7 linked regions of the Homo sapiens genome follow. The protein of the gene in region 3 purifies or fractionates together with the protein of the main gene of each other region. This does not show direct contact. Each region holds a gene or a part of one and is shown on either strand. Other genes may lie near its edges.

The links.
Region 1: the proteins of KCTD14 (region 3) and DHFR purify together in Homo sapiens (affinity purification with mass spectrometry; one large-scale study listed by BioGRID and IntAct). This does not show direct contact.
Region 2: the proteins of KCTD14 (region 3) and EMID1 purify together in Homo sapiens (co-immunoprecipitation; one large-scale study listed by IntAct). This does not show direct contact.
Region 4: the proteins of KCTD14 (region 3) and OXSR1 purify together in Homo sapiens (affinity purification with mass spectrometry; one large-scale study listed by BioGRID and IntAct). This does not show direct contact.
Region 5: the proteins of KCTD14 (region 3) and ANKS1A purify together in Homo sapiens (affinity purification with mass spectrometry; one large-scale study listed by BioGRID and IntAct). This does not show direct contact.
Region 6: the proteins of KCTD14 (region 3) and PDXDC1 purify together in Homo sapiens (affinity purification with mass spectrometry; one large-scale study listed by BioGRID and IntAct). This does not show direct contact.
Region 7: the proteins of KCTD14 (region 3) and ACSF3 purify together in Homo sapiens (affinity purification with mass spectrometry; 3 studies listed by BioGRID and IntAct, with this or other methods). This does not show direct contact.

Annotation. Positions count from the first base shown.
Region 1 is NC_000005.10:80,648,484-80,651,983, forward strand, and holds part of DHFR (dihydrofolate reductase), read right to left. Parts: intron 1,012-3,500; coding exon 906-1,011; intron 1-905.
Region 2 is NC_000022.11:29,233,396-29,236,895, reverse strand, and holds part of EMID1 (EMI domain-containing protein 1 isoform 1 precursor), read right to left. Parts: coding exon 3,428-3,500; intron 3,283-3,427; coding exon 3,230-3,282; intron 2,760-3,229; coding exon 2,697-2,759; intron 2,592-2,696; coding exon 2,547-2,591; intron 1-2,546.
Region 3 is NC_000011.10:78,020,477-78,024,702, forward strand, and holds the start of KCTD14 (BTB/POZ domain-containing protein KCTD14), read right to left. Parts: upstream 2,801-4,226; 5' UTR 2,774-2,800; coding exon 2,684-2,773; intron 2,546-2,683; exon of another isoform or gene 2,067-2,545; intron 1-2,066.
Region 4 is NC_000003.12:38,224,537-38,228,036, forward strand, and holds part of OXSR1 (serine/threonine-protein kinase OSR1), read left to right. Parts: intron 1-34; coding exon 35-168; intron 169-3,500. UniProt on the Homo sapiens protein: Effector serine/threonine-protein kinase component of the WNK-SPAK/OSR1 kinase cascade, which is involved in various processes, such as ion transport, response to hypertonic stress and blood pressure.
Region 5 is NC_000006.12:34,895,755-34,899,254, forward strand, and holds part of ANKS1A (ankyrin repeat and SAM domain-containing protein 1A), read left to right. Parts: intron 1-3,500. UniProt on the Homo sapiens protein: Regulator of different signaling pathways. Regulates EPHA8 receptor tyrosine kinase signaling to control cell migration and neurite retraction.
Region 6 is NC_000016.10:15,034,026-15,036,428, forward strand, and holds part of PDXDC1 (pyridoxal-dependent decarboxylase domain-containing protein 1), read left to right. Parts: intron 1-260; coding exon 261-353; intron 354-431; coding exon 432-528; intron 529-1,423; coding exon 1,424-1,528; intron 1,529-1,925; coding exon of another isoform or gene 1,926-1,990; coding exon 1,991-2,250; 3' UTR 2,251-2,403.
Region 7 is NC_000016.10:89,092,514-89,096,651, reverse strand, and holds the start of ACSF3 (malonate--CoA ligase ACSF3, mitochondrial isoform 1 precursor), read right to left. Parts: upstream 2,801-4,138; 5' UTR 2,656-2,800; intron 1-2,655. UniProt on the Homo sapiens protein: Catalyzes the initial reaction in intramitochondrial fatty acid synthesis, by activating malonate and methylmalonate, but not acetate, into their respective CoA thioester. May have some preference toward very-long-chain substrates.

The sequences.
Region 1 (3,500 bases), on a different chromosome or scaffold from region 3:
GAAGGATGCGTTTGCTTCCCCTTCCACCATGATTTTAAATTTCCTGTGGCCTCCCCAGCCATGAGGAACTGTGAGTCAATTAAACCTCTTTCCTGTACAAATTGCCCAGTCTTGGGCAGTTCTTTATAAGAACATGAGAATGGATTAACACAGGTCCAATTCTGGCCACCCCTCAACCTCCCAAGCCATTGGAGTTGACTTCCTGGGCAGTCTTAATATGATTACCCCTCCCACTCTCCAGTCACCAGGGCATATCCAGGCTTCATGAACTACTGACTCCAACCCTGGGTTGGAGGACAGGAAAATTCTTAGCAGAGGCTAACTGGAGATACCCGCTTCTCTCCAGGATCTCTAGAACCATTTCAATACTTTGAAATGTTTTACCTTCAGACACTGGGTAATGAATGTTAAGTACAAAATATTATTGGGTATTGTGGTTAACTAGGAATAACAGAGTAGAAGATTATGACCCATTTCAGCCCATCCTAAAATTCACATTTTATTGCATTTAGGGTTGGGTCCAGAAAGGGGATCATCACTTAATTTTAGCAAGTCCCAAAAAATAGTTGTTTTGACTTTATGTGAAACTACAGGTTATTGATTACACTGTATAATTTATATTTGGGCCTACTGAATGATGGTTCAAGATAACTTGCAAATCTGATACCACAGTGAGCTATTTAATGTTTAATGTAACTTTTCAAGGTGATGAAATCAATTACTCAGGTAGTAGAATAAGTTATTGTCATGTAGTATAAATAACTGCTTATTAATTTTCTATAATCACCTTTGTGATATTAAGCAGCTTCATCAATAGCTCCTTTTATACAATTTCATTTTATCATATACTGATCTCCACTATGAGACATGATTTTCTTGTGGTGAATTTATGTTAAGGTACTTACTTGAGTTCTCTGCTGAGAACTAAATTAATTCTACCCTTTAAAGGTCGATTCTTCTCAGGAATGGAGAACCAGGTCTTCTTACCCATAATCACCAGATTCTGTTTACCTATAAAATCACAAAGAAAGCCTAAGTATATTTTGGGAATATACATATATTTTCATGTATTTATATACAACATGTCCTTGAATAACATCGTTTTCTTCTAACGTTGATGAGAAAAATAATCAATTCCTGGCCAGGGCCACCGTCTGTGTGGAGTCTGCATGCTTTTCCCATGTCTGCATGGGGTTTCTCCAGGTATTCCAGTTTCCTTCCACATCCCAAAGACATGCACATTATTCTTCTTAAATGTATGTATAGCTCATATTTACTTCAGTGTTTTCTATTAGAAGTGTTTTTGGCCTTCATTTAGAAGTTTGGTGATGTTTTTGTGACCAGCAATATGCCCTAGGAACTTAACTCTTGTGTACATCCAGTAGCCTATGGTAAAATTGGTTTTGCTCTACATTGTTTCACTTAAAGTCACAGTTTCCAAGAACTCACAGATGACATTGAGGACTTATCTATGTGCATAGATATGATGGACATCCTGACATTTAGTGGATCTCCTTTAAAAAACTGAACTTAAAAGTCTCTTCACGGGCAGGTCAATTTCACTGGTTGAAAGTAAGAGACAGCTGAACCCTCGTGGAGCCATTCATACAAGTCCCTATTTAAGGAACAAGTGATTATGCTACCTTTGCACGGTTAGGGTACCGCGGCCGTTAAACATATGTCACCGGGCAGGGGTGCCTCTAATACTGATAATGCTAGAGGTGATGTTTTTGGTAAACAGGTGGGGTAAGGTTTGCCGAGTTCCTTTTACTTTTTTTAACCTTTCCTTGTGGGCATGCCTGTGTTGGGTTAACAGTGGGGGTAATAATGGCTTGTTGGTTGGTTGTAGATATTAGGCTGTTAATTGTCAGTTTAATATTTTGGTCTGATGTAGGCTTATGTGGAGGAGAATGCTTTCATGTTACTTATACCAACGTTAGTTCTTCTATAAGGTAATAGATTGGTCCAATTGGGTGCAAGGAGTTCAGTCATATGTTTGGGATTTTTCGGATGATAGGTGTTGAGCTTGAACGCTTTCTTAATTGGTGGCTGCTTTTAGGCCTACTATGGGTATTAAATTTTTTACTCTCTTTACAAGGTTTTTTCCTAGTGTCCAAAGAGCTGTTCCTCTTTGGACTAACAGTTAAATTTACAGGGGGATTTGGAGGGTTCTGTGGGTAAATTTAAAGTTGAACTAAGATTCTATCTTGGACAACCAGCTATCACCAGACTCGGTAGGTTTGTCGCCTCTACCTATGAATCTTCCCACTATTTTGCTACATAGACGGGTATGCTCTTTTAGCTGTTCTTAGGTAGCTCGTCTGGTTTCGGGGGTCTTAGCTTTGGTTCTCTTTGCAAAGTTATTTCTAGTTAATTCATTATGCAGAAGGTACAGGGGTTAGTCCTTGCTATATTATGCTTGGTTATAATTTTTCATCTTTCCCTTGCGGTACTATATCTATTGCGCCGGTTTACAATTTCTATCGCCTATACTTTATTTGAGTAAATGGTTTGGTTAAGGTTGTTTGGTAGTAAGGTGGAATGGGTTTGGGGCTAGGTTTAGCTCAGAGTGGTCAAGTTGAGTTGAAATCTCCTAAGTGTAAGTTGGGTGCTTTATGTTAAGCTACACTCTGGTTCGTCCAAGTGCACTTTCCAGTACACTTACCATGTTACGACTTATCTCCTCTATATAAATGCGCAGGGGTTTTAGTTAAATGTCCTTTGAAGTATACTTGAGGAGGGTGACGGGCGGTGTGTACGCGCTTCAGGGCCCTGTTCAACTACGCACTCTACTCTTAGTTTACTGCTAAATCCACCTTCGACCCTTAAATTTCATAAGGGTTATCGTAGTTTTCTGAAGTAGAAAATGTAGCCCATTTCTTGCCAGCTCATGGGCTACACCTTGACCTAACATCTTTACGTGGGTACTTGCGCTTACTTTGCAGCCTTCGTCAGGGTTTGCTGAAGATGGCGGTATATAGGCTGAGCAAGAGGTGGTGAGGTTGATCGGGGTTTATCGATTACAGAACAGGCTCCTCTAGAGGGATATGAAGCACCGCCAGGTCCTTTGAGTTTTAAGCTGTGGCTCGTAGTGTTCTGGCGAGCAGTTTTGTTAATTTAACTGTTGAAGTTTAGGGCTAAGCATAGTGGGGTATCTAATCCCAGTTTGGGTCTTAGCTATTGTGTGTTCAGATGCGTTAAAGCCACTTTCGTAGTTTATTTTGTATCAACTGGAGTTTTTTACAACTCAGGTGAATTTTAGCTTTATTGAGGGGAATTGATCTAAAACACTCTTTACGCCGGTTTCTATTGACTTGGGTTAATCGTGTGACCGCGGTGGCTGGCACGAACTTGACGAACCCTAGGGTTAGTATAGCTTAGTTAAACTTTCGTTTATTGCTAAAGGTTTATCACTGCTGTCTCCCGTGGGGGTGTGGCTAGGCTAAGCGTTTTGAGCTGCGTTGCTGCGTGCTTGATACTTGTTCCTTTTGATCGTGGTG
Region 2 (3,500 bases), on a different chromosome or scaffold from region 3:
GATCCCGGGAGGCGGAGCTTGTAGTGAGCCGAGATCCAGCCACTAGACTCCAGCCTGGGCGACAGAGCAAGACTCTGCCTCAAAAAATAAAAAAAAAAAGAAAAAAAAGAAAGAAAATAGTAATATGGTAGCTGTTAACCCAACTATATAAATAACACTTCATTTATTTAGTTATTTTTTATTTTACTGATTGACTTATTTTTTTGAGATGGAGTCTCACTCTGTCGCCCAGGCTGGAGTGCAGTGGCACAATCTTGGCCCACTGCAACCTCCGCCTCCCAGGTTCAAGCAATTCTCCTGCCTCAGCCTCCTGAGTAGCTGGGATTACAGGAGTGCGCCACCATACCTGGCTAATTTTTGTGTTTTTAGTAGAGACGGGGTTTCACCATGTTGGCCAGGCTGGTCTCAAACTCCTGACCTCAGGTGATCCCCCTGCCTCCACCTCCCAAAGTGCCAGGATTACAGGTGTGAGCCACCGTGCACAGACTATTTAGTTATGTTTTAGAGGCAAGGTCTGGTTCTGTCACTCAGGCTGGAATGCAGTAAAGCAATTATAACTGTCACCTTAAACTCCTGGGCTCAAGCAATCCTCCCAGCTCAGCCTCTCAGGTAGCTGAATCTACAGGTGCACACTACCACGTCCAGCCAATTTTTAAATTTGTTTTATAGAAAAAGGGTCTCATTTTGTTGCCCACTCTAGTCTCAAACTCCTGATTTCAAGTGATCCTCCTGCCTTGGCCTCCTGAAGTGCTGGAATTACAGGTGTGGGCCACTATGCTGGGCCTCAATAATCACTTTAAATGTCAATGGCCTAAATGCAGCAAATAAAAGATGAGGATTGTTAGAATGGACCAAAAAATAAGACCTAACCGTAGGTTTTCTATAAGAAACTGACTTTAAATATAACCACAAAACAGATTAAATGTAAAGGAATAGAAGTTAACTGGGCATGGTGGTACATGCCTGTGGTCCCAGCTACTCAGGAGGCTGAGGTGTGAGGATTGCCTGAGCCAGGGAGGTTGGGGCTACAGTGAGCTATGATTGCACCACTGCACTCCAACCTGGGTGACAGAGAAAGACCCTGTATCAAAAAAAAAAAAAAAAAAAAAAAAAAAGCTTAAATTCTAGAAAGCTTTAATTCTAGAAAGAAAATTAATTTTAGAAAGAGAAGATTTTAAGTCAGGCACAATGGTGCACACCTGTAGTCCCAGATACTTGGGAGGCTGAGGCAAGAAGATCACTTAAGACACTTCATTCACTATGTGCCCAGGAGTTTGAGTTCAGCCTAGGCACATAGGGAAACCCTGTCTCTAAAAAAGAAAAAAGAAATCATAAAAAGTACTCAATCCAAAAGAAGACAAGAAAAGAAAAGGGAAAAAAGAAACACAAAACAGAAGGAATAAATAGAACATAAACAGCAAGATGGCTAAACAGAACCATATTAATCAATTATACATATCATTAAATATAAATTAACTAAACAGTCAAACTGTTTTTAAACAGCAAGACCCAAGTCATATGATGCACTTTTTTTTTTTTTTTTTTTTGAGATGAAGTCTCACTCTTATTGCCCAGGCTGGAGCACAATGGTGTGATCTCAGCTCACTGCAACCTCTGCCTCCTGGGTTCAAGCAATTCTTCTGCCTCAGCCTCCCGAGTAGCTGGGATTACAGGTGCCTACCACCATGCCTGGCTAATTTTTGTATATTTAGTAGAGACGGGGTTTCACCATGTTGACCAGGCTGGTCTTGAACTTCTGACCTCAGGTGATCCACCCGTCTCAGCCCCCCAAAGTGCTAGGATTACAGGCGTAAGCCACCGTGCCCGGTCCACACTTTCTTACATTTAATAAAATTTATATACATATTTTTATATAAAGACAGAGTTTTGTCATGTTGCCCAAGCTGGTCTTGAACTCCTGAGCTCAAACGATCCACCTTCCTCGGCCTCCCACAGTGCTGGGATTACAGGTGTGAGCCACCACACCCAGCCATGATGCACTTTAAATATAAAGTTACAGGTTGAAAAAAAAAAGGATAAAAAAAGATATAACATGCAAATAGCAAGCATAAGAAAGCTGGTGTGCTATTAAAAGCACACAAAGTCGATTCAAGGCAAGTATTATCAGAGATAAAGATATTAATTTCATAAAGATAAAATGACCAAGGAGACATTAAAATACTAAATGTGAATGCACCTAATAACAAAGACTCAAAATACGTAAAGCAAAATTCACCAAATTAAAGAGAGAAATGAACAGATCTACAATCAGAATTGGAGAGATAGAGTGTAAATGAAATACAGAGTCAAAGAGACAGACGTACAGAGGGAAAGAGAGAGATACAGAGAAACAGAGAGCCAGAGTGAGAGAGACAGAGGCAGCCTAATCCAAAGAGGACAATGAGTCTCAGAGACAGGGAGCATCTGAAAATAAATGACAAGACAGGGAGGGTTAGAAGCTCTGGTTGCAGGGGATGGAGTCACAGGAGGAATCTGGGACTAAGGGATCCTGCAGGGATGAATGCGGGACAGACAGCAACACTTACCCGCTGCCCAGCAGAGCCTTGGGGGCCAGGCTCCCCACGCAGTCCCTGTGTAAGAGGGAGGAGACGAATGGCGTCAGCTGTTGAGGACTCTGACCTGGGGCCCTCAGGACTCCCCAGAATTCCCCCACCTGGGGCCACCTGGGTACTCACTCTCTCGCCCTTCTCTCCTGGGTGGCCAGAGATTCCTTTGGGTCCAGTGGGGCCTGGGGGTCCCTGAGCAACAAGACAGGGCCTCAGCCTTGTGTTGGGGCAGGATGGAGTGGGCAGGGGCTTGGGAACAGAGGTGTTGGGGAGGGCGCTCAAGCTTGGTCTGGGCCTCTGGGTTCTTCACCATACACCCAGCACACCGCAGTCAGTTCATACAGCTCAGTGTTAAAAGATCTGATCCTGGAGTCAGACAGTCCCACCACAGCTCATTGCCATGTGCTGGCACAAGAATCTCTACTTTTCTTGGTCTTAGGTGATAACCACACATGGTTCTCATTACTTGGATTGAATAAGATTTATGGAAGGTAGTTTGCATATTAAGTGCTCAATAAATACTTGTTGAATGAATGAATGGAAGGATGAATGGATGGATGGATAGATGGATACAAGGGTGGATGATGGACAGATGTATGGATGTATGCATAGATGGAAAGATGGACAGACACATGGGTGAGAGTACAAGGAGAACTACTCACTATGTGACCAGGACTCCCAGGGACACCTGTGGGGCCAGGAGGCCCAGGGGGACCTGGAAAAAGACAGGATGTCCTAAGGGCCGGAACAAAGTACAATCTCAGGAAGTGCCCCATCAGCTCCCTCCTGATAGCCACAAACCCTATTCCCTCTGCCATCTACCAACTTCACCCTTTACCCCTGGCCTGGACTCAACTTACCCATGGGCCCTGGAGGGCCTGGAGGCCCAGTGGGTCCCTGGGGCCAGTGGTTGTTGGTCTCAGTGAAGGTGTT
Region 3 (4,226 bases):
AAACAATAGAGCTGAGAAAAATAAGCCCAGAACCTCTGATTCTTTCTCCCATAAACCTCAAGGCCCCTTGGCAGGGCTGTTTGGTTAACCCTGAAGTCACCTCTGTAAAGCTCGCAGTTAAATGCAAAGCTGCAGAGTTTAACCCTTGAATGGACCAATATGTTCTCATTACTCCTACACCACTGAAAGCTCTCAGGTCCTCCTAATGTCCCCATGTTACAGGCAAGGAAAGCTCAGACAGAAGTCACACAGCTAGGATGTGATGAAGTTGGAGCTGAGATGATACCTGTATTAGCATGACTCCAACACAGTAAGGGTGCCTCACCGCCATCCTTCCCAACATCCTGCCCCCCTACTGCCAATACTTTGATATGTGCCCAGGGCCCTTTGCTTTCCGTCTCTGGAACTAAGCTTAGTCATCTGTGAAATAGGGAGGCAAAATGGACCAAAAGAATGCTAAGCTTCCCCAGCTCTGAAAGTCTAACAGATCCAATCACATCAAATATCCTTTCTGAAGCTAATTTCCAGATGCTTCAAAAAAACAGGCTGGGTGCAGTGGCTTACGCCTGTAATCCCAGCACTTTGGGAGGCCAAGGTGGGAGGATCACTTGAGGCCAGGAGTTCAAGACTAGCCTGGACAACATGGCAAAACCCTATCTCTACTAAAAATACAAAAAATTAGCTGGGCCCTGGTGGTGCATGCCTGTAATCCCAGCTACTTGGGAGGCTGAGAATTGCTTGAACCCGGAAGGCAGAGGTTGCAGTGAGCCAAGATTGCACTACTGCACTCCAGCCTAGGTGACAGAGGGAGACCCTGTCTCAAAAAAAAAAAAAAAAAAAAAAAAAAAAAAAAGTTTCCTGCACTGACATCTTCAGCTCCATTTCTTTATCAAACAAGACCTCAGCCGTGTTCCTAAGCTTCTTTTTGTTTTTTGTTTTTGTTTGCTTGTTTTTTGTTTTGAGACAAGGTCTCACTCTGTTGCCCAGGCTGGAGTGCAGTGGTACAATCTCGGCTCACTGCAACCCCCACCTCTTAGGCTCAAGCGATTCTCCTGCCTCAGCCTCCAGAGTGGCTGGGACTACAGGTGTGTGCCACCATGTCCAGCTAATTTCTCTATTTTTTATACAGACAGGGTTTTGCCATGTTGGCCAGGCTGGCCTCGAACGCCTGAGGTAGGTGGTCCACCCACCTCTGCCTCCCAAAGTGCTGGAACTACAGGCATGAGCTACCACGCCTGGCTGAGAGTACGTTTTCTGAAGTACAAATCTGATCCTGTCACTCCCTGCATTAAACACTTGAGTAACTTTTCATTCCCTTCCAGATAAACAGCAGACTCCATAACAAGGTTTAGAGGCCCTTTGCAACTAGGCTGCTACTTCACCCCTCGCAATCAACTACCAGAACTGCCTGCTGCTCCCCACTCCTCCAATCCAGAGCTGGGCAAGCCCCCTCACCTCCAGAAGCTCACTCACTTGGCCATCCGCACTCCTTTCTCTGACCCCACTCATCCTTCAGATGAATTCCTCTGGGAGTCCTTCGGGGTGGGTTGTCTCACTGTGATCCCAGAAAGTCCTACACTACTATACTTCCACTGGCCTGGCAGTTCTTCCCTTGCAATTCCCTGTTTCTTCATTGACTGTGAGGTTCCTGGCCAAGTGCTGTGTTTCATGCCTGTAATCCCAGCACTTTGGGAGGCTGAGGTAGGAGGATTGCCTGAGCCTAAGAGTTTGAGACCAGCCTGGGTCTCACCAACATGGCGAGACCCCATCTCTATTTTAACAAACAAACAAACAAACAAAAACTCTGTGAGGCTCCTAAGGGAGGGGAATATCCTCTGATTTACAGGAGCATCTAGTATTCTGTTCAAGGCCAATCTTGCCCTACCTGGCATCATGCACAGTGCCTTACACTTCCCCAGTAATTCATTCAGGCATTTATGGAACACCTAGGGTGGTCCTGGCACTAGGCATGTGGCTTTGTCAATAGCCAACAACAATGACGTGATCATGGCCCTATTAGAGAGAGCCACGCTGCCCTGCTGCTGGATCTGCTTTCTCTTCCTCCAGGTCTTCAGGATGACTCTCAGTGCAGGAGAGAACCCGAATGTTCTGCTCCCAGAGTGCACGCAGCCTTTTCCCCATCCTCCTCCCCAACTCCCCTCACCCAAGCTGGGGACCAGGCAGGCAAGCAGAGGGATTTGGGACCCAGCCAGAGGGCAGGGGCAGGCTGAAGACCCAGCCAAGGGGCAGGGGCAGGCTGGAGAGGGCTGCAGGTGAGGGAAAGATCCTCTGGCCGAGCTGGTTGGATGGGCTTCTCCCACCGGGAGCAAGGGAGAAGGTGGGGCAGAGGAGGAGTCGTGGGCTAGGACAAGCCGGTGGGGAAGAGACAAGGGAAAGGAACTAAAGACCCAATGTAGAGGGAGGAAGCAAAAGGGCAAAGAGGAAAGGCTGGACAGAGCCAAACCAGAAAGGGACACCGAGGCGCGAAAGGAGAGTGATCCCAGCAGGAGGGACGGCAAAGATTGAAGAGAGCGACCAGCCCGAGGTGAAGGGGGACAGCGCGCCAGAAGCAGGGGGCTCGGGCGTCTGGGAGGGACGGGCAGGAGAAACTGGAAGGGAGGGAAGAGGCGGAGGGAAGAGGCGGAGGACAGAGGCGCGGGGACGCAGCTAGCCTCGCACTTACCGTTGGCCGCCTGGGCCGGGGGGACTGGGGCAGAGGGGTCTGGCTCGTCATCCTGCCCACTGGCCGCTCCACTGCGCAGCCCTGCCACATGCAGATCACTTGGGCCAGCGGAAGTGCCCCTGGCTGCCCGCCCCTAGGTGGGAACACCGAGGCTCAAGGCGGGACGGGGCTGAGCCAGGCGTGGCTTGCAGTGAGACTGGGCCAAGTGCAGAAAGAAATGGACAGTCTGTCTATTTGGGGCTTCTAAAAGTTGTTAGGCCCTGAGAAGGGCTGACTTTGGAGACCGAGAAATGGAGCAGACCCCTTAAGGACTGACCTTTTGATATAGATTAATTTCCTTCCTTTTCTTTCTTTCTTTCTTTTTTTTTTTTCAGAGACAGGGTCTCACTCTATCGCTCAGGCTGAAGTGCAGTGGCGGATCAGGCTCACTGCAACCTCAACCTCCTGGGCTCAAGTGATCCTCCCACCTCAGCCTCCCAAAGTGGTGGGATTACAGGCCTGAGCCACGGCAACTTGCCTCTTCCTATATTTTCTTTTACGCTTAAATAAATTACTTAAACATATTGCTTGAATCCCGTTATTAAAGTTGACATTAGTTAATGCCCCTCTCTGGGCCTCGGAGTTCCCAGTAGTGAAATGGGGGAGGCAGAAGGAATTGACATTGACTGACATTGACAACCAGAGACTTTCTATTCCCTACAGTCCTAGGGAGTGAAAGATCCGCAACACCCATTTTACAGATCAGAAAACTGGCGCTCTAGGAGGTAGGGTGGTGTTAAAATGTAAAGTCTGAGGATCAACAAAACTTTTTTAAGAGTATACTTGAGTAACAGGCAATTCTTGAATCGGGGAACACCAGATGGAAAGAGGTTGAGTGTTCCCATGACAATGCATCAGAGGCAAATATTTATGGGGAGAATATGGAAGCAAGATATTTTGTTGGGGACAGGCATGGTGGCTCACGCCTGTAATCCTAGCACTTTGGGAGGCCAAAGCGGACAGATCATTTGAGGTCAGAAGTTCGAGACCAGCCTGACCAAAATGGTGAAACCCCGTCTCTACTGAAAATACAAAAATTAGCTGGGTGTGATGGCATGTGCCTGTAATCCCAGATACTGTGGACGCTGAGGCAGGAGAATCGCTGGAACCCGGGAGGCAGAGATTGTAGTGAGCTAAGATTGCACCACTGAACTCCAGCCTGGGCAACAAAGATTCCCTCTCAAAAAAAAAAAAAAAAAATATATATATATATACACACACACACACACACACACACACACACACACATATATATATATATACATATATATATATAAAATTGGTTACAGTTAAAAAATCTCCTTTTTTGGTTTCCTTTGTTGAAAAGTCCACAGCTACTTAATTGTATGTTAGTTGGCTGCTTGTGGTTGGCTAATGTTAAGTTTCGTTTCTGTCTAACATTAGCATTTACCAGAAATGACTCTATTAGTCAGGGTTCTACAGAGGGACAGAACTAACGGAATAGGGTTGGACACGGTTGCTCACGCCTGTAATCTCAGCACTT
Region 4 (3,500 bases), on a different chromosome or scaffold from region 3:
TCACAAGTTTATAGTATATTGAAAATTCTTGCAGGTTTTAATGCTGACACTGCAGAACGATCCTCCTTCTTTGGAAACTGGTGTTCAAGATAAAGAAATGCTGAAAAAATATGGAAAATCATTTAGAAAAATGATTTCATTGTGCCTTCAAAAAGATCCAGAAAAAAGGTAAAATATGAGAAAAAGTCTACTTTTCTCTCTAATAAAACATTGTGAGAAGTCTAAGAATCACATACTCATATGTACAGGAAATTATTTTCAAAAGAACTAAATATAAACTTTAAAAAAGTATACAGAGACCATTATACTGGATTGGAAATGAATTGATTTCTGCCTTCTTTGTAGTATACAGTGTACCCTAAATAGTTCAGCTTTTTCCTTGTTAATTTCTTACAAAGTTGTACATTGTGAATTCTGTATTAATAAATGCCAAGTTAGTGGAGAGATTTGTTTTTAATTTGCATTTAAAATTTATAAATGAATGTCTTAATGCCATTTACAGTATTAATAAAGGAAAGACACATAGAAAATTTATATTTAGTGTAATAATCATACTTATTTCCATGTTAGAAAGATATTTTAGTAAGTGGACCAAAAATTCAAATAGCTTCCTTATCAATGTTAGACAGATTGAATGACAAGTGAGCAAATAAATAAGAACATCCGATATGTGTAACTTCATGAATTAAGCAGAATCGTAGAATGTTGGGGATCATTGAGTACAACCTTTTATTTTTGAGGTCACTTGATACTTAGTCATAGGAGTAGGACTTGAATCTCAAAGTCCTGATTCCTAACTTAGGGCTCTGTTCCTTCTGAATCTTATCTGTCTGTTTCACATATATATTCCACTCAGCTTCTTAGCACTGAGTTCTTTAATTTTTGTTTCTCTAAAGATCATTAAAAGGGAAAGACTTTGATGTTCTTGATCACATCTCTAGTGTATGTAATAGGGTTTCAGAATTTATTGTTGGAAATATTGGAAAGGGTAAGAAAAACAGGTAGCAAAATTTATACCTGTGTTTTTATAATTTTTTTTTTTCTGTTTCTGAGTAAACAGTTAAAAAAGACAGGAAACACTTTTCTTTTATCAAATTAGTTGGTTAAAGGAACAAAATTATCCTGTTACAAATACCTAGAAATGCCAGATAAAATCTATCCAACTTAAAGATTCTCAGATGCCAGAAATAATGAGGAAGCCCTAAGTTAAAGAAGAAATATTGTGAACTAATCCCATGGCTGTTTTCAGTGGGTCACTATTCATTCTGGTAACCTACTGATTTGGATTTATAACTCCCATGTGAAAACTGGAAGTGAGATCTTGGGTCCACCCAGTGGGGAGTTTGAACTGAGATTCTTCTTAAAGCTAAGAACTTCAGATGTCAGTATCCTTAGTAAAAGGATAGACAAGAATAAAAATTGTCATCACCAAGAGACAACAAAAACCTCTCCTGAATAATCAAGCCCTTCAACCTGGACATTCCACAGGTTTAGAGTCTATACTCCCTATGTTATCCAGGAACCCACAGGATTAGAAAGTTAAAAAAGCTTTACCAAATCAGTTTTTATTTTTGACGGAAGTAGTCACAGAGCTGCACTGGAAGAACACTTTCAAACTCTAGCTCCCATTGGATTCCTGAACATAATGCCCCACTGTAATAAGGTCACAATCCAAAATTAAGAAACACACAGTGAAACAATGCATTATGAACTAGTTAGCAGACACAAGCAGAAGGATTAGTGCTCCAGAAGATTTAGGTAATGCAGTGAAAATCTGAAAAGATACAAAATTAAGTATATTGAAAATAATTAAAATTAGAAGAAATCAGACCCACAAGAGAAGACTGTGACTATGACAGAAGAACCAAATAGCAATGCCAGAAATGAAAAATACAGTGATTAATGTTTAAAACTTTCCATGAGTGTGAGCTGGACTTGTTGACTCACTTCTGATGAGTAGAGTATGAAAAAGGAAAAATAGCAACTTTACAATGCACCTCCTCTACCCAATGACCAAGGTTAACATCACTATTAATAATACATTGATAAGACTGATATGTGCCTCTTGATATGGTGCAATGAGAAGGGCATATATATAACCTGTGAGGTATTCTTCCTCCAAATCCGTAACTTCGGTCTATAATGAGAAAACATCAGACAAACCCAAATCGAGGAATATGCAGCAAGATACCTGACCAGCACTCTTCAAAACTGTCAAGGAAGAGAGACTAAGAAACTGTCACAGATTGGAGGAAATTAAGAAGACGTGAAGACGGAAAGCAAGAGTATCCTATACTAGATCCTGGGACAGAAAAAGGACATTAGTGGAAAAACTGGAGAAATGGAATGAAGTCTGTAGTTTAGTTAATAGTATTGTACCAGTGTTGATATTTTAGTTGATTTCTTTATTATTATACTGTGGTTATGTAAAAGGTTCACAATAGCAGAAGGTGGTGAATGGCATGTAGGAACTCTGTACTAGCTTTGCAGCTCTTCTGTAAGTCTAAAATTATTATAAAACTTTAAGAAAACTGGAAGCTATAGAAAATCTATTCCAGTTTGTAAACCAAAATTAAACTTTGTTTAGAACATTGCTAAGTTAAAATAACACGCACAATGGACTGGTTAAACAGAACAACCAATAAAACAAAAAAGAGATTATTTACTCATCAAGTACCAGGCACTGTGGTAAACACTTAACATATATTGTTTAATTCTCACAGTAATCCTTTGAGGATAGCACTGTTATTTTCTTTATTTTACAAATGAAGAAACTGAATCACAGAGAGGTTAAGTAACCTTCTCCAAAGTCACACAGCTAATAAATGGTGGAATCAGAATTCTGACCCATGCAATTGGACTAGAGTTAACCTGTTTTAATCAGACTACACTATACTGAGGAAATTGCTCAGAATGTGGCACAGAAAGATCAAAGAGGGAATATGAAAGAAATATTAACATTTGGAGGGTAGACTGAGAAGGTTCAGTATGTTTGTGTGTATGCACATCCACACACACACACACACACACACACACACACACACACACACAAATGTACGTATACATATACATGAACTTACCAGGAAAGACTAGAGAGAGTATAGGAGAAGCGATATTCAAAGAAATAATGGCTGAGAATTTTCGAGAGTTGATGAAAGACCTATATTCTCAGAGTAAAGAACCATCCCCCCAGAATTCCAAGCAGTGTCCCCCTTCTTCCACTTGTACAAGTTGCTGTGAAACTACTGGACACGAAGCAAAGACAAACTCCTACAGGCAACCTCGGGGAACAGATTACCTACTGAGGATTAGCAGGTAGACTTGACAGCTACTTCCCCAATAACACAACAGTTGAGGCCAGCGTTTAGTGAAATGCTCAGAGAAAATGCAGTCATGTGTCACTTAAAATGATGAGGATACATTCTGTAATATGTGTATTAGGCAGTTTTGTCATTGTTTGAACATCGTGGAGTGTACTTACACAAACTTTGATGGTACAG
Region 5 (3,500 bases), on a different chromosome or scaffold from region 3:
AAAATAGTTTTTCAAGAATGTCTTTCTTTTTTTTTTTTTTTTTTTTTTTTTCTGAGACAGTGTCTCTCTCTCTCGCCCAGGCTGGAGTGCGATGGCACGATCTCGACTCATTGCAGCCTCCACCTCCCGGGTTCAAGCGATTCTCCTGTCTCAGCCTCCCGAGTAGCTGGGATTACAGGCGCACGTATTTTAGTAGGGACGGGATTTCACTGTGTTGCCCAGGCTGGTCTCGAACTCCTGAGCTCAGGCAGTCTACCCTCAGCCTCCGGAAGTGCTAGGATTACAGGCGTTAGCCACCGTGCCTGGCCTTTTTTTTTTTTCTTTTTTTTTTCAGAGACAGTGTCTCACTCCTTCATCCAGACTGGAGTACAGTGGTGCAATCTCAGCTCACTGCAACCTCTGCCTCTCAGGTTCAAGTAATTCTTGTGCCTCAGCCTCCTGAGTAGCTGTGATTACAGGCATGCACCACTGCACCTGGCGAATATTTGTATTTTAGTAGAGACAGGGGTTTCACTATGTTGGCCAGGCTAGTCTCGAACTCCTGACTTCAAGTGATCTGCCTGCCTCGGCCTCCCAAAGTGCTGGAATTACTACAGGTGTGAGCCCCCACGCCCAGCCAAGAATGTCTTAAAATACTCCCTTTAAGTGTGATTTTGTTGGGAGGGCAGCCCTGTTCCTGCATTTTGGAATTGCTGTACTTACATTTTTGCTTTCTCTAAAGCAGAGTGTGGTTCCCATGTTAAAAAACAAAAGGAAACAAAAAAAGGTAACATGCTTGGAAATGACTTTTGTGGTAGTTACTTTATATGTAAAAATCTAGAAGGTGCCTAATCTTAAACTGAGTAAGGCATTTACTTAGAATTAAAGATAATTTACCCAGCCTGGGCAACATGGCAAGACCTCGTTTCTACAAAAAATAAAAAAACTAGGCCAGGCGCAGTGGCTCACGCCTGTAATCCCGGCACTTTGGGAGGCTGAGGCGGGTGGATCACCTGAGGTCAGGAGTTAGAGACCAGCCTGGCCAATATGGTAAAACCCCATCTCTATTAAAAATACAAAATCAGCTGGGTGTGGTGGCCTGCATCTGTAATCCCAGCTACTTGGGAGGCTGAGGTAGGAGAATTGCTTGAACCTGGGAGGCAGAGGTTGTAGTGAGCCAAGATCGTGCCATTGCACTCCAGCCTGGGCAAAAAAGAGCGAAACTCCATCTCAAAAAAAATAAAAATAAAAAATTAGCTGAGTGTGATGGCATGCACCTGTGGCCCCAGCTACTCAGGAGGCAGAGACGCAAAGGTGGGAGAATTGCTAGAGCCCAGAAGGTGGAAGGTTGAGGCTGCAGTGAAAAGAAAATTTACTACAAAGTTTAAGATTTAAAGTCAGTGGTCTCCCTTTTTCCTGCATCCTCCAATTGAAGTTCAGTTTTTACTTTCTTAGTTGCAAAAATTAGAGACAGGAAACAATGAAACAAGCTTGTGATCTGAAGAATTTGACTTGTATCTAGTAGCTTCAGCATGTTCACGGGTCATAGGAGGTTATGGTCCCAGTGAAAGTTACATTCTTGGCCAGAAAAATCCCTTCAGGAGGTTCTTTTTCCCACATTGGATTGTTCACCCCAAACAGCTGTGAATTCTGGTTTGCAAAAGGAAGTCCAGGCTATTTCTGCCCTAGTCTTTCATAGGGAAAGTAAATTACTGGGTTTTTAGCCCAGAAACACTAAGGAAACCCCAGAAGTAGACAGTGGAGAGTTTGTTCTTAGAAAAATCAGGCTCTCCTGTGGGTAGGAACTTGGTCTCTTTTTTGGAGAGCTCTCAGAAAATATTTCCCACACTGATTTCCAAAGGATTATTGGGAGATTTTCTGTGGTAGAGAAAATTATATCGTATAATATGTTACATTCATAGAACATCTTCACATAACTTTGGTGTGGTTAGAGTTAATGGTAGTAATACTGGAAATTATATGGTATGTCTTCATATTTATCCTTTCTCAGTAATTTGTAGATCAAGTTTGTTTAGTTTACAAATCAAAAAAGAGTTTTTAAAACAAGTCAGTTGTCTCTGCTTTGAAACAAGATAGTTGTATCTGTTTGTGATATTATTACCACTGATCCAGGAAGCAGAACTGCCTCCTGGCCTACTTAAGTGGTGAGGACATACTATGGTGGCTAAGGATCAGGTTCTGACCCAACTCTGCCTTGTGACTTAGGCAAATTAAGTCACTTTTCTGCGCCTCTGTGTCTTCATATATATAATGGGCCTGGGATGGTGCCTATCTTCTAAAGCAGCATTAAATGAGCTAAAGGATGTAAGGCATATAATGCCTGGCACATGGCAAGGGTTTGGTAACCCTCAGCTGCTAGAATCATCTAATGGGAGCCAGGTGCTTGCCACCCTTGATGAATCAGAGTGAGGACCCTGTTAAGGACATATCTTTTATTGATGTTGCCATTTTAACATTTATAATAATTCACAGCAGAAGCTCCCAACCTTTTAAACTATGAAGAGTCCCATAGTTTTAAAAAGCCTGAAAATTGGCAATGGTGGCAAAGTTACAAAGCAATCCAGGTCCACAATCCTTTGTTTGAAACCTTGGGGCCAGATATGTTTTCAGGGTGCTGACTCAATATTGTATATTGAGTCCCTAGTGGGACTGTGGCAGCACCCTGGAAACATTGTATTTCTACAGCAAAACCTGTAAATATTGACTAAATGGGATAAATATGAAGCCGCTTCATATCAGCGTAGGTCAGGTTTTGCAGCTAAATGACTGCTGCTAACTTATGAAAATATATTTTCAGAGCTTTTTGGATTTCTGAATTGTTGATAAGGGACTGTAAACCTCTGCCTTTATGGTAGAAAAATTGCAAGACAAAGAAATGCACTAAGAAGAAAATAAAATCAGTTATAATTTTACCACCTACAGAAATTAACTTGAAATTTTGGTGTACAATCTTGTTTTTTTCTGTGCAAACTTTTTTTTTTAACAGAAATGACATTATTTTGTATATACTTTGTCTCATGTTTTCACGAACTATATTGTGAAAACACTTTCCTATATTTTCTGTCCTCCTCAACCTCATTTTAAATGGATGTGATATCCGTGGTATATATGAATTGTAATTAATTTAACCCCTTTCCTGACATGGAACATGAGTTTGTTTTTCGTTTTTTGCTATTAGAACAGCTCTGTGATGAACATGCATGTGGATAAGTTTGTGTGTACATTCTGCTTATAACATTTGATATATTCAATAGAATGGTAGGTGTAGTTTCAACATTCAGCCATTGCAGAAATCAACAGCTGAATATTCAAATTGCACCTCAAAATCAACAAGAAACATACATGTTGTTGAATTTGAGGACTCATAGTAATTCTGAGGCCCCTTACATCTCCTGGGTCCTTCTGACTGGGAAGTAATATACTGATTTATGGTTGCTAAATACTACTTATATTCAGAAAGTAACCTTTGTGCAAGCCCAGGACTTTTTAATGGTTAACTT
Region 6 (2,403 bases), on a different chromosome or scaffold from region 3:
TTCTTTCCAGCCTGACTTTATGACTTCTCTGTTTTCAAGAATACGTAGCAAATGAGGCTGGTCACCAAGGTGTGTCTGCCTAGGCCTCTATGAGCATGTTATCTGCTTGTCTTTGAGTTTCTGTTCGTTTTACGCCGGCTTTTCAATGCAGGATTTCATTGACCTGCTTTTGAAAAATTCCCTCAGTGCTGTGTTACTAGCTCTTCTGGGCCCCAGGTGAGAACCTTAAACAAGTAATGTCTTTCTTGGTCTTGCCACAGCTTCTGGAAAACATGACAGAAGTGGTTCGGAAAGGCATTCAGGAAGCTCAAGTGGAGCTGCAGAAGGCAAGTGAAGAACGGCTTCTGGAAGAGGTGAGGCCCCCGATGGGCAGCAGGCTGGGGGAGCCGCCGTGAGGCCAGGTGGCCCTGAACTCTGGTCCTGTCTTGCAGGGGGTGTTGCGGCAGATCCCTGTAGTGGGCTCCGTGCTGAATTGGTTTTCTCCGGTCCAGGCTTTACAGAAGGGAAGAACTTTTAACTTGACAGCAGGTAGGACGGCATAGCCTCTTCCCAGGTCTTGCTGACCTTGGGAGGTTTCACCAAATGCCCTTGGGTCCCAACACTTCCCACTGAGAATCCCGCCCTGGTTCCCGTTCTTCATCACTGGGTGTGGGCCGGACATCTGAGGAGACAAGTTCTGGTGTGCCCTGTCCTCCTCCCCACCGCACCCTGGCGGCTGAAACAGCAAGGAAGCAGCTACCCACTCTCCACAGCTGTCACCACCGCAAGGCCATGAGGACACGCCCACTCAGCCGTGCAGACTCTCAGGGTGCTGTGTCTTGGGCATTTTGGTTCAGGGTTAATACTTCTTGTCTTCATGTGTGTTCTGCCCCAGCAGAGGACAGCTTTTGCAAGTGGCAATGCAGAGACTGAAGCATGGAGTGCTGGCACGGTTTATTTTGAACCAGGCAGCCAGCAAGCGTTTCAGCCGCTGGAATGTGGGGAGGGTGTTAACAGTCCGTGACTCCTTTCCTGTTCTACCAAGGAAATAATTTCCTACACTCGAGCCCCTTCCTTCATTCTTTCCCAGGAAACGATGACTCCATTGTCATGAAAGCAAAAGATAATCTGATTTCTAATCTGCCAAGCCTTAGCCTTCAGCAAAAAGGCACCCACTTCTTGTGGCTACAGTACGTTTCCCTGTTGGGCCTGGCTCCCTGGGTGTGCTTACGCCATACTGCTGGCGGATGCTGGCGGTACTGGCCCTGTGAGGTGGCTTTCTCTAGCTCACGGCACATTCATAAGTGCCCTTCTCTCCACCAGTCTGTGGCAGGCTCAGTGGCTGGAAGGAGGTTATTGGGGAGCAAGGCTGTGTGAGGGCAGGTGGTGTCTTCAAGGGCAGCCTGTGCCTGTAGCTTCTACCCAGCCCTCTCCTCTCCCGCAGGCTCTCTGGAGTCCACAGAACCCATATATGTCTACAAAGCACAAGGTGCAGGAGTCACGCTGCCTCCAACGCCCTCGGGCAGTCGCACCAAGCAGAGGCTTCCAGGTAAGTGACGCCTCTGCACCGAGTTCAGGTAACAGGTTTCCCCTGTTGACTGTTACTTGCGTTTGTTTTCTGGGTTCTTGAACTCCAGAGGTCTATTTCTCTTAAGACCAACTACTACCATCTCTTTAACCATCTTGGTAGCCGTGGGATTCAGCCTTGAAGAAATCCCACGGTAGTGCGCTAAGGGGAAGTTGGGGTCTTGAAAGATGACATTGTCACTGTGGTGTTTACCCTCCTGGGCGTTTCCTAATGAAGATGACCTTAGAGTTCCCCGGCCTGGGGAGCATGTTGGTGTCAAGCTAGCAGCTCTCGGTTTTCTCATCTCCTAAAACACCTCAGAGCCAGTAAAGGTTTCTGCTGAAGCTGTGTTGTGAAATAAAGCAATTATCTGTTGCAGAGACAGCCTGTGTTGCAGAAGTATCCTCACTGAGTTTCAGCGCAGTCTGTCTGCCCTTTCTGTAGGCCAGAAGCCTTTTAAAAGGTCCCTGCGAGGTTCAGATGCTTTGAGTGAGACCAGCTCAGTCAGTCACATTGAAGACTTAGAAAAGGTGGAGCGCCTATCCAGTGGGCCGGAGCAGATCACCCTCGAGGCCAGCAGCACTGAGGGACACCCAGGGGCTCCCAGCCCTCAGCACACCGACCAGACCGAGGCCTTCCAGAAAGGGGTCCCACACCCAGAAGATGACCACTCACAGGTAGAAGGACCGGAGAGCTTAAGATGAGACTCATTGTGTGGTTTGAGACTGTACTGAGTATTGTTTCAGGGAAGATGAAGTTCTATTGGAAATGTGAACTGTGCCACATACTAATATAAATTACTGTTGTTTGTGCTTCACTGGGATTTTGGCACAAATATGTGCCTGAAAGGTAGGCTT
Region 7 (4,138 bases), on a different chromosome or scaffold from region 3:
TTTAATTTTGAGAAATACTGACAAAGTCCCCTCCAACGAGGTGCTGATTTATTCTCCCACCAAGCATGTGGAAAACGGAACCAGCCCCATCAAACCAGCTTTTCAGTCCCTCAGGCTTGGGACAATGAAGTGCCCAGTCATCAGTTCTCTTCAGCACAGAGGTTGAATCTTCACGGTCATCGGATCAGAGCCCTGCCTCGAACACGCAGACAGAGCCTACTCAGGGCAGATGGCTGTGCGCGGTCTTCCTGCACACCTCCCGGTCCAGAGGCACCCCAGCTTCCTCAGAGAGAACCTCACCTTTCAACCACTGGGACCCCTTCTACCGTGGGGCTCCCCATCACCACCAGGAGCACAGTGTGGAGGGACACTGCCCACCAGACAAATGCAGTTCAGTCAGGGGCTTCCACCCTCAGCCAGCTTCATACCCCTGCTACGCAGCACCCTGATAACCCGAGGTCAGCGGCGTCACCACGTGGCTGGGCAAGGACTCTAGTCAGAAGCTGAGAAAGGTGCCTGAGCCAGGACAGCCTCCTTGGTGAAGGCGTACTGGAACCACTGAAAACAGTGGCTCTCCAGCCCTCGGGGAGGGAGGCAGGACCTCTCGGTGTTCTAGCCATCAGGTTCTGAGATCAGACCACTAAGGCACTGGGGCTTCTCGGGAACACACATGCAGCGCAGCGGGATGCATCTTTTCCCTCCTAACTGGAGTGCTGGTTAATGGCAGAGTTAGTCACCACAGGCTTCGACTTGAACGGCTGCTGCCTTTGTCCTCATTTCCTCACTGGCCTAGCCCTTCACTTCCCACCGCTAAGATGGCACAGTAACAAGACCTGCCTCACAGGCTTCACGTGAGAATGTACGAATGGCCCGGCACAGGCCAGGCAGAAGACAAACGGCCGCGCCGTGCTCAGCAGGGTGCTCCCCATGGAGCCTCGCAACAAAAATTACTAGATGAGAATGACACTCGCATTCAAATGAAGGGCTGCTTTCAACATGAATAAAACGACACCTGACCTGTTCACCACCACACCTGACACCCCCGCCCCCCCAGACCTTGTGTTTGAAGTGGATGCCGGCACTTCCTCCTGTCGGCTGCCCCGATGAGAGCGTGGGGCAGAGGAGGGCTGTGCTCGGCCTGCGGGGCAGGATGCGTTTCAGCATCACACCTGTGGTTTGGAGGGTTATTTTCAAAATTACATTTTTAAGTAACAGACATTCACATTGCATTCATGAGCAGTACATTCAAATAAAAAAAACCAAAAAGGAAAAATACACTTGAAACCCATATCCATTTTAGGAAGAAAAATACTATTTTAAAAATGCCATCTGGAAAGGTGACACTTACAACTATCCCAAGCCCACAGTTTAATCCGCCATTTCTGTCTGCCTTGAGGAGATGGTTCAGAGCCAAAGGAGCAAGAGCAAGGGAAGCCTCATCTTATGTCCTCCAACACCTGCGGAGAGGACACCAGCCTGAGCCAGGCTTCACGCTACAAAGCTCGCAGGGTCCCCAGGGTCCACCGGTAGTAACACCCGTGCTCCTGGGTCCACCATGTGAACCCCCTCCTCAACAAGGTCTCAGCCTTGGGCCCTAACACGAATGTCTGTCCTCCCAGGATGGGAAAGCAACAACTATGCCCCAGACACAATTCGTGTTCCTATCTCTAAACGTGTTCCCTTTCTAGCAAATTCCTAATCATTCTTCCAAGCCCAGTTCAAATATCACCTCTTCTTTTTCAGTTTTATTATTTATTGAGACAGTGTCTTGCTCTGCCACCTAGGCTGGAGTGCAATGGTGCTGTCATGGCTCACTGCAGCCTCCGATTCCTGGGCTCAAGAAATCCTCGTGCCTCAGCCTAACCAGTAGCTGGAAGTGCAGGTGTACGCCACCACACCCAGCTAATTTTTACATTTTTTTGTAGAGATAGGGGTCTCACCATGTTGCCCAGGCTGGCTTTGAACTCCTGGCCACAAGTGATCCTCCTGCCTCTGCTGCCCAAAGCGCTGGGATTACAGGCATGAGCCACTGCACCTGGCCTGCCTGGTGGAATTTAGACTCAGGACAGCAACATCAACTCCTGACTGCACCGGGCCTCACCCCTTTAAACCTTCCCTCTCTCCAGGGAATGGGCTGCCTGCAGTACCTTCCAAATACTTCACGGCCGGCCGCACGTCTCCATTGCTTGCTCATAGATCTACATGCCCTCAGGGGCTAGGCCGGCTGTGAACCTGTGCCCCACGCGCCCAGCAAGGTGCACGCAGCAAACAACTAAAACGGGGAGTACTTCAAGGGTGACTTCTGAAGCCCAATGAGAAATGGAAGTGAATTTATTCCAAACACAACCAAAGACGATTCGTTCTGAGGATGCCTGAACACGGACCCCGCCGGCTCGACGGTATCACCGGGCCCGGCGTCCGCACAGCTTCTCTCCCCGCACCCCGCGCGGGGGCCCCGCTCCCCACCGGACACGAGAGGCTCGGCGTCCCGGGAAGGCCGACGCCCGGCCCCAGGCGGCTCGCGGGGAAGCGACCGCGCCACGGGCCACGGCTCAAGCCCAGCTGCGACCCAGGGGCGGGCGCCGGAGCCCGCGCCCCCGAGAGCTCTGCGCCCGGCCGACCCCGCCGCGGTCCCGTGGGCCCCGCCGCCCGCACCTACGAGACGGCCGCGGCCACGGGGCAGGATCTGCCTCGCCACAACTCTTCCTCGTCCTCCGCCGCGCGCGCGCCGGGGTCGGGCCGGGTTCCGGCCGGGTCCCGCGGGGTCGTGAGTCGGGCCGGACCAGTTCCGGCGCCCAACAGCTTCCCCGGCGCGGCGCGTCCGTCGCCCAAGCGCGTCCCCCCGGCGCGGCGCCGTGGCGGCGGGTTCCGGGCGCGCGTGTTCCCCTGTCCCGCCCGTCCCGTCGTGGCGGGGTCGGGGCCGCGGGCGTCTCGTGAGCCGTGGCCGAGGCAAGGCGCCGTGGTCTCCGCTAGCCCAGGGCTGCCCAGATCAGAACGGCGCGCGGGACCACTCCCAACGCGGATTGCTGGGCCTCGCCCCGTCCTCCCAAAAGGGGCTCTCTGGGCTTTGCGGCTGGGGGTCTGCACGCTGAGCTCCTGGGTGATTTTATTATTATTATTATTGTTGTTACTTTTTCTTATTATTATTATTATTTTGAGATGGAGTCTCGCTCTGTCGCCCAGACTAGAGTGCAGTGGTGTGATCTCGGCTCACCGCAACCTCCGCCTCCCGGGTTCAAGTGATTCTCCTGCCTCAACCTCCCAATTAGCTGGGACTACAGGCGCCCGCCATCATGCCTGTCTAATTTTTGTATTTCTTGGGTGATTTTAAACGGACCGCATTTGAGAATCTCTCCTCGAAGGGACTTGGGAACCAGGATACGAATATGAAGCGAGACTGTTGGATGGACAGTGGCGGAAAACATTTAAAGCCAAACACAAAGTCCAGTTGGCTGAAATTTGAGGGTTTTTCCCCTAAAATGAATACTAATAACACAAAGACATGTACTGGCAAACAGTAGTACAAATTATCTGCAGAACCGTCCTGGTGTGATGGCTCACGCCTGTAATCCCAGCACTTTGGGAGGCCGAGGTAGGCAGATCACGAGGTCAGGAGTTCAAGACCAGCCTGACCAACATGGTGAAACCCTGTCTCTCCTAAAAATACAAAAATTAGCCGGGAGTGGTGGCAGGTGCCTGTAATCCCAGTTACTCGGGAGGCTGAGGCAGGAGAATCTCTTGAGCCTGGGAGGTGGCGACTGCAGTGAGCTGAGATTGCGCCACTGCACTCCAGCCTGGGCAGCAGAGTGAGACTGTCTCAAAAAAAAAAAAAAATTATCTGCAGAACCTTGCACAGTTTTTTTGTAAGTGTATTATTTTCCATGCCCATCTTCCTCTCTTGTGATGATTGCTGGGGCAGCAGTTGTGTCCTTGGAAAGCTCAGGAAAGGGCACTTCAGGAGCCCGAGGATGGTTTTCCTGGGAGGAAGGAGCTGGATCTGGGGGAAGTTTGTAACACAGAGCGTGGGAGAACAAACCCAAACTTCTAGTGCCTCTGGTTGCCACCCTGCTAGGTATCATGCAGAAAAAGCAAGTCCAACCCTCTGCCACTGGGACAGGCTTGATCTGGTGTCAGAATT